Linked DNA regions of Homo sapiens: region 2 is reported to be linked to region 1. The links are microRNA targets in miRTarBase. Many come from high-throughput screens and were not tested one by one. Region 1 holds a microRNA gene; the other region holds the end of a gene's coding sequence.
Evidence for each region. Region 1 holds the annotated microRNA hsa-miR-30c-5p (UGUAAACAUCCUACACUCUCAGC, at 1,758-1,780, opposite strand). A microRNA usually pairs through its seed, bases 2 to 8, with sites in the 3' UTR of a target mRNA and lowers its output. Matches are read on the target gene's strand: a 7mer-m8 pairs with bases 2 to 8, a 7mer-A1 pairs with bases 2 to 7 and ends in A, and an 8mer does both.

Region 1 (3,151 bases):
ATAATACTAAACAAAAACCAAAATTATATAGCTTTATATCAAAGTTTTCCATAGTCAATGAAAGAAATATTCTGGAATATTTAAATACACTTGGTTTTGGAGGACAAGGCAATAAAAAGATTGAATAAAATTAGATATTTTACATAGATACACAAGATGTTTATATTTTGACACATTATATATTTTCTTGTAAGTTCCATGAGAAAAAGGACTTTGTTTCTGTTCTCTGCTATATCCCCTGTGCCTAGAAGTTCACATAGTAGATGCTCAATAAATAATTCTTGAATGATGAATGAATTTCAGCATGTATTTCAATAAGCTTTGAAACACCTACATTCATGACTAAAAGTTAACCATAAATTTAGATCTGGAATATTTGAATGTCCCCCCTTTTAATTTAGGCAGAATAATAAAATGCTATGGCAAAGCATATGCATCATTCTCTGCTGCTTAGAGTTGCTTTTCCCCTTACCCATATTATCTGCCTCTCCTAGCAGAAAGCAAAATTTCAAACATCTATAACAATTATTTCTTTGAGAAGACTGTAGAGCATTGTTTCAAAGAGGGTTTTCTTAAGCCTGTAGGCAAACCTAAAAAGGTAAATGACTCAATCAAGCTGGCACTTCAACAGTGTCTACCACTGCTTCAAGGCCAGCCTGTTCAAATACTTCCCTGAAATCACATGCTAAAGTCATTGTATTTAAACTTTTTTTCTATAAACTCATATGAAACAATTACTCCTATTGTATTAGGCTCTACAGTCAGTGCGGAGGTAAAATTAAAAGCTCCTCTAATACTTCTAAAGTAGTAGAGTGTCTTTTAGTTTAAATGACTGATATATGCTGATATGCCAAGACTAGAGTAATTTTGTTCAGATTTGTTTAATTTTTAATAGAAGCATTAAGTTAATTATTTAACTTCTTAAGGGCTTGTTATATAAAAATATGCCTTATTTAAATATTCTCTTTAACAAGAAGGCTTATTTCATAATAATTTTAAATAAATCAGCAATGGACTCAAATTTCAGGTAAGTTACATTCTAGATTAGATGTTTAATAGACCTTTGATTTAAACGATTTACATGAAAGAGTTTTTCTGGTTAAGGCTGAACTTATGAGTTCGTTCTGTAGATTTTTCTTAAAATTAACTTCTTGCATCCCATCCCTTACCTCTACATTTTCCTTCCTCTCCCGTCCTCCAACAACAATTCTATTTTTTCCTGAAATGTGTAACTATATTCTAGCTTTAAAGAGCAGACCTTATTGTTTGCCATTACAATTCCTAAAGCATGGGGCTCCAAGGTGCCTTTGATCCCTGATAAAATAGCAAGTCCAAGGACACTAGAATTTTTGCTTCAAGAAAAGCAGACTTCAGTGTGGAATGCTCTCAGGTTAAAGGAGAAATGTTTAGCTTAACGTATAGGTAATGTGTTGCTTTTACAGATCAGACTGCAGCAACCCACAAAATGTAGCCTCATACAAGTTAACCAGAACTTTTGTCACTTGGGTATTTGGTAATCTTTTTTTTCTTTTTAAACTAAGTGAAACAGTTCAAATATAACTGATATTATAGATTATCTTACATTTCTTTGGATGACTTAGTCAATTCACCTTTTTTCCTTTTACAGTTGACCTCAGAAACAAACACGGGATAGGATCAATTCTAAGACATAGAAATATTCAAAATCCATTTCTCTTTAGTTGACTTCCAAGGCAGAAAGAGTAAACAGCCTTCTCCCAGCTTTCTTACTTTCCACAGCTGAGAGTGTAGGATGTTTACAGTATCTGTCGCTCAGTGCTCTCTAGGATGGGGTTGGCAGTCAGCAGCACAAGCCTCAGGAAACCCAGTACCATTTGAAGATACCATAATATGTCACAGGAAAAGATCAGAAAAGTATACTTGGGACTAAATTATGGCTCTTTTAGGAGTAGGGTTGGAAGGGTGGGTGGGGAGGCTATATGACACTTACTTAGTGCTGCCTGCTCAGTTCTTGTTTTCTTCCTGTTTTGCACATCCTAAGATATTCCTAAGGTCTCTAGCTTTGAGCTTGCACACTCACGGATTTGGTTAATTTTGGATTTTCAATATTCTATGCTTTCCCAAAAGGGTTTCAAAATATTCGCCAAACTCCTTCCTTAAACAGTACATAATCCCTTTCTGACTGTTGGGAGACATGAAATGCAGCTTCTCACTCTCTGGGCTATACAACTTTGTTTCAGCTCACTCCTGCACAGAACTGAGAATAATGGCTAAACAGAAGACCAACAGTTTAATTACTGAAAATTAGTTACCTTAATGATGGGATACACAGTAATAAATTTAATCAAATGAGCAAAAAGTAAATATGTTAGAATACAACTTTACATGCATAAAAATGGTATATTGCAAATTGCTAATATAATGCTAAAATTATTTTAAAAATTCATATTCGGACAGAAGTGAACCTACAATTAGAGGCATACACATGAATGGAGTCAGTTGCTTCCTAAAGTTATTTTCTAAGAATGACTTATTCAAATAGTTCTTGGACTTCATTTGCTAAACTGGTCTAAGGTACACAAAATACTTGGGCGAAGAAGAAAGTCATCATTACTATACATCTCAGAACAAACCTACCTGATAAGAGACTACACTGTAAACCCAGGTGGCATATAATTCCAAACTGTTACAGGATCTTACTCATTTCATTCATTCATTCATTCATTCAACAAACAATTGTGACTGCCTGCCATATATCAGCAATGTTTTAAATTCTAGGTGATGAGAAATGAAGGGTATCATCCCTACCTTCGAGAAGGACACAGCTTAATTTGCAAGACAGACACATACACCATTACTATAAGTGTTATGATGGGTCAAAAGACACTTCTGAGTTGGCTAATAGCCAGGCTGAGTCTTGAAGCCTGAATAAAATTAGCTAGGTGAAGATGGTGCTAATGGGAATTTGGAAGGGGTGGGCAGTGAAGAAGATAGTGTAGCTTAAAGTGTACCAGAAAGAACAGTCATCCAATAGAGAAAGAAAGACAAAGGTAATGTATGCTGAGGCCTTTAAGAATTCAGCAGAGGTGGAGTCAAAGATGCATGTGGGTGAAGGGTAAGGGGAGAGACACAAGGGAAAGATGGGAGTCCTTATGTGCCAGGTTAAAGGGTT
Region 2 (3,000 bases), not on the chromosome of region 1:
GGGCACAGAAACCCCAGGGTGTGAGGACTGGGTGGGGACATGTCAGCAGCATGGCCAGGCAGCCAAGGGATCAGAGCCTGCTGTTTTAGGGGGTGAGAGTAGGATGATGACAGGGGCAGGGCTCATTCTCCATATTGGGGTCCTGGAGGGTCCAGGCTCACAACCAAGGTCCTTTGGCCAGGGGTAGATGGGGTTGAACCTCTGGCACCTACTCTGGAGGCATCTGCCCTGGGCCTGCTGAGTGCATGGAGGCTGGTGGCCCGGCATGCTGACAGTTCTCCTGGCCCTGCAGATCCTGGCAGCCCTGGAGAAGGATGAGCAGGCGCGGCGGCAGCGGCTGCGGAGCAAGCTGGAGCAGGTGGTGGACACGATGGCCCTGAGCAGCTGAGCCCCAGCTGTGATCATCCAGCATGATGCAGCGTGAGGACAGCTGAGCAGGGACCGGGACAGCCCTCACCGCATGCGTGTGGAGTGTCCGGTGGTGCTCGGGCCGCCGCAGTGCAGCGACTGCCCGGCCCTCCCTCCCCTGCCTCACCCGGTCGGGTCCCGGCTCTTCCTGTGTGGAGGTGATGGTACCTGCCACACCACAGCTGCGCACACAGCTGCTTGCTCAGGGGCCGGGACAGCACTGGGTGCTCAGGCTGGCCAAGGACCTTCATTGCCTGGCAAGAGCTGCCCAGTGGCCTTCATGGGAGAAGGGCTGACCTCTGAGGGGCTGAGGGGTGAGGCCAGGGCCCTCCAGGGGGAGGGGTAGCCAGCTTGGGCTGTCCCCTTGAGACCAGGACAAGAGGCTGGGGGTGTCAGCATTCCCAGCTTTCCAAGCTGCCCCCAGGCGGCAGAGTCTGAGGGTCCCGGGGCCCGGTTGGCAGCTGGAGAAAGAGGCAAAAAGCCCGTAGCCGGGCAAGAGGAGCTCAAGTCGGTCTGGGCCCGTTGCCACCGACTCCCACCTCCAGCACCCATGCCCGCTGCACCGCTGCCATCCTCAGATTCACCGCGTGCTCTGCGCGGCCGAGGCCGGAGCACCACATCCACCTCGCCCCAGAGAGGCTCTGCTCCCTCCTATGGAGGGGCTGTGGGCCAGGCTGCTCAGACTCCTGGGTGGCTTCCAGACGGACCGGGCAGCCCCTCTCCGTCCTCAGGGCTGTGCCTCTGGGAGCCACTGGGCCAGGGGCCCCGGGTCGCAGAGAGCACGTTCCCGTTATTTATTCCCCTCCGCGTCCTACACAGGCTGCCCTGGCAGCTGTCTTCAAGGGTAGGCTGAGCTCCCCACCCTGGAGCCCCTGAGGGCGGCCCCTGAGCACTCCTCTCTCTCCACTCTCTCTGTCCCTGCCCCAGCGGCTTCCAGTGTGGCATCTCAGCAGTGTCCTGGCCCCTCCAGAGCAGTGGGACATCTGGGGACTGTTTTTGTGTTTAGGGGAAAAAATTCTGCTGCACTCTGCTTGGGCCTTGAGGTCTGTGGCAGGGCTCCTCTGGCCCGCAGTGGCCTGGATCTATCTGGGCCATGAGTGACGGGCAGTGACCAGAGGGACTGGAGGCCAGCGGTGTCCACCCTTGCCCTCAGCAAGAGAGAATGCATTCTTAAAAGAAAGCTGTACATGTATATATATGCATATATATATATGTGGCTCTAGCCTCAGGCTCCAGCCCCAGTGGGGTACTGTACAGTTAACTGAAGAAGAATTTTAAAGACGATTTGAACAAGAAAATGAAGGCAGTGGGAAAGCAATGCCAAATGGTTGTGGAGAAAGTGGCCGGAGCCTCCCTGGAGTGGAGCAGCCCTGAAGCCTGTGCCCCCCGACCTGCGGGCCGCTGTTTTGGTTTGACATGACAAGGAAAGGACTTCCTGCTGACCCTGAGAGCCTCTGGGGTGCCGCGGCACCACGGGGCATGCATGATTGTGCTAGCGTTTAGTCTGAGTTGATCTTTTTAAAACTGCAAGTGTTGAATACTAGAGGTTGTTAGACCCTTTTTTATGTTTTTTAATTAATCAGTCACTTGTAAAAGCAAACAAGCGGTCCATCCCCTTTTCAAGGTCACTTTTTTGATGGTACCGAAGATCCCATGGACATTAAGGGACAGCTAACTGTGGCCAGACTCAGCCCCATGTCCTTGGCCAGGCCCAAGGAGAGGACTCGGCCCCATGGGGTGTGCCAGTCTTGCAGTCCGCCCCAGCTGAGTAGCGTGAGCCAGATGACGCCACAGAGACCCGCCTCTTCCCTGAACGCGGGTCGGTGTGGAGTCAGTGACTGCTGACTCAGGGAGCTCCTTGGCCCCGTGGGCACTGTGCCAGGGCTGGGGCCTTCTGCTGCTGCCACACCCAGCTCAGGCCTGGGCCAGCCCCTGCCCCCAGCCCACTGAGGGGGTGGGCTTACTCCCTGGGCAGTCTTGGGGGCCAGAGCTGAGGCCAGTCCATATTACAGTGGCTGGGCTGTTTTTTTCAGTAGCCCCTAGCATTGGCTGGGATTCCTGTTCCTGGGTGCGCCTCCACCTCCCTTCTGATGTTTCCTGGCTATGGTGGGGTGGGAACCTCAGTTTCCCCCAAAGTCTTCCCTGGATGCTGGCTTCAGGTTGAAGTCCCTGGTTCTTCCAGTTCCTCACGGGTTAGGTAGGGGCTCCTGCATCACCTTCAGAATCCAGTTCCAACCCCCACTCTCCTTAGGCCTTGTGCTCTGCTCTGCCCTGCCAGGCTGCCCTTGTCCATGTGAGTAGCATGGGCGGGTGGTGGGGACGGCAGTGGTGATGAAGGGGGTGCACCACAGGCCTCATGAAGCAGTTCCCACATGGGCGTGTGGCTGGGGCGTGGCCACCACAGAGCACATGGCTGTGTCTAGGCGCAAGCACTTTAGCAGTATCTGTTTACATGCGCAAGGATCAAGCCGACTACCTGTGCTGTCTACTGGGACAGCAGTCTCCGAGCTACTCCGTACCTCCCTCTGCCAGGTCGTGGAGTTAGGCCCCAGTCCCTACTTGTCACTGGTTCCCACTGTGCTCCTAACTGTG

Region 2: miRTarBase lists PLXNA1 as a target of hsa-miR-30c-5p. Seed matches in the 3' UTR shown: 8mer at 2,854-2,861.

Annotation. Positions count from the first base shown.
Region 1 is chr6:71,375,246-71,378,396 of GRCh38, forward strand. MIR30C2 (microRNA 30c-2) reads right to left here and starts at 1,786; the gene lies at 1,715-1,786.
Region 2 is chr3:127,033,630-127,036,629 of GRCh38, forward strand. PLXNA1 (plexin A1) reads left to right here. Exons shown (of 32, transcript NM_032242.4): 32 at 293-3,000. The coding sequence ends at 388. Among named protein-coding and RNA genes, the nearest start is that of PLXNA1, 52 kb to the left of the region's middle.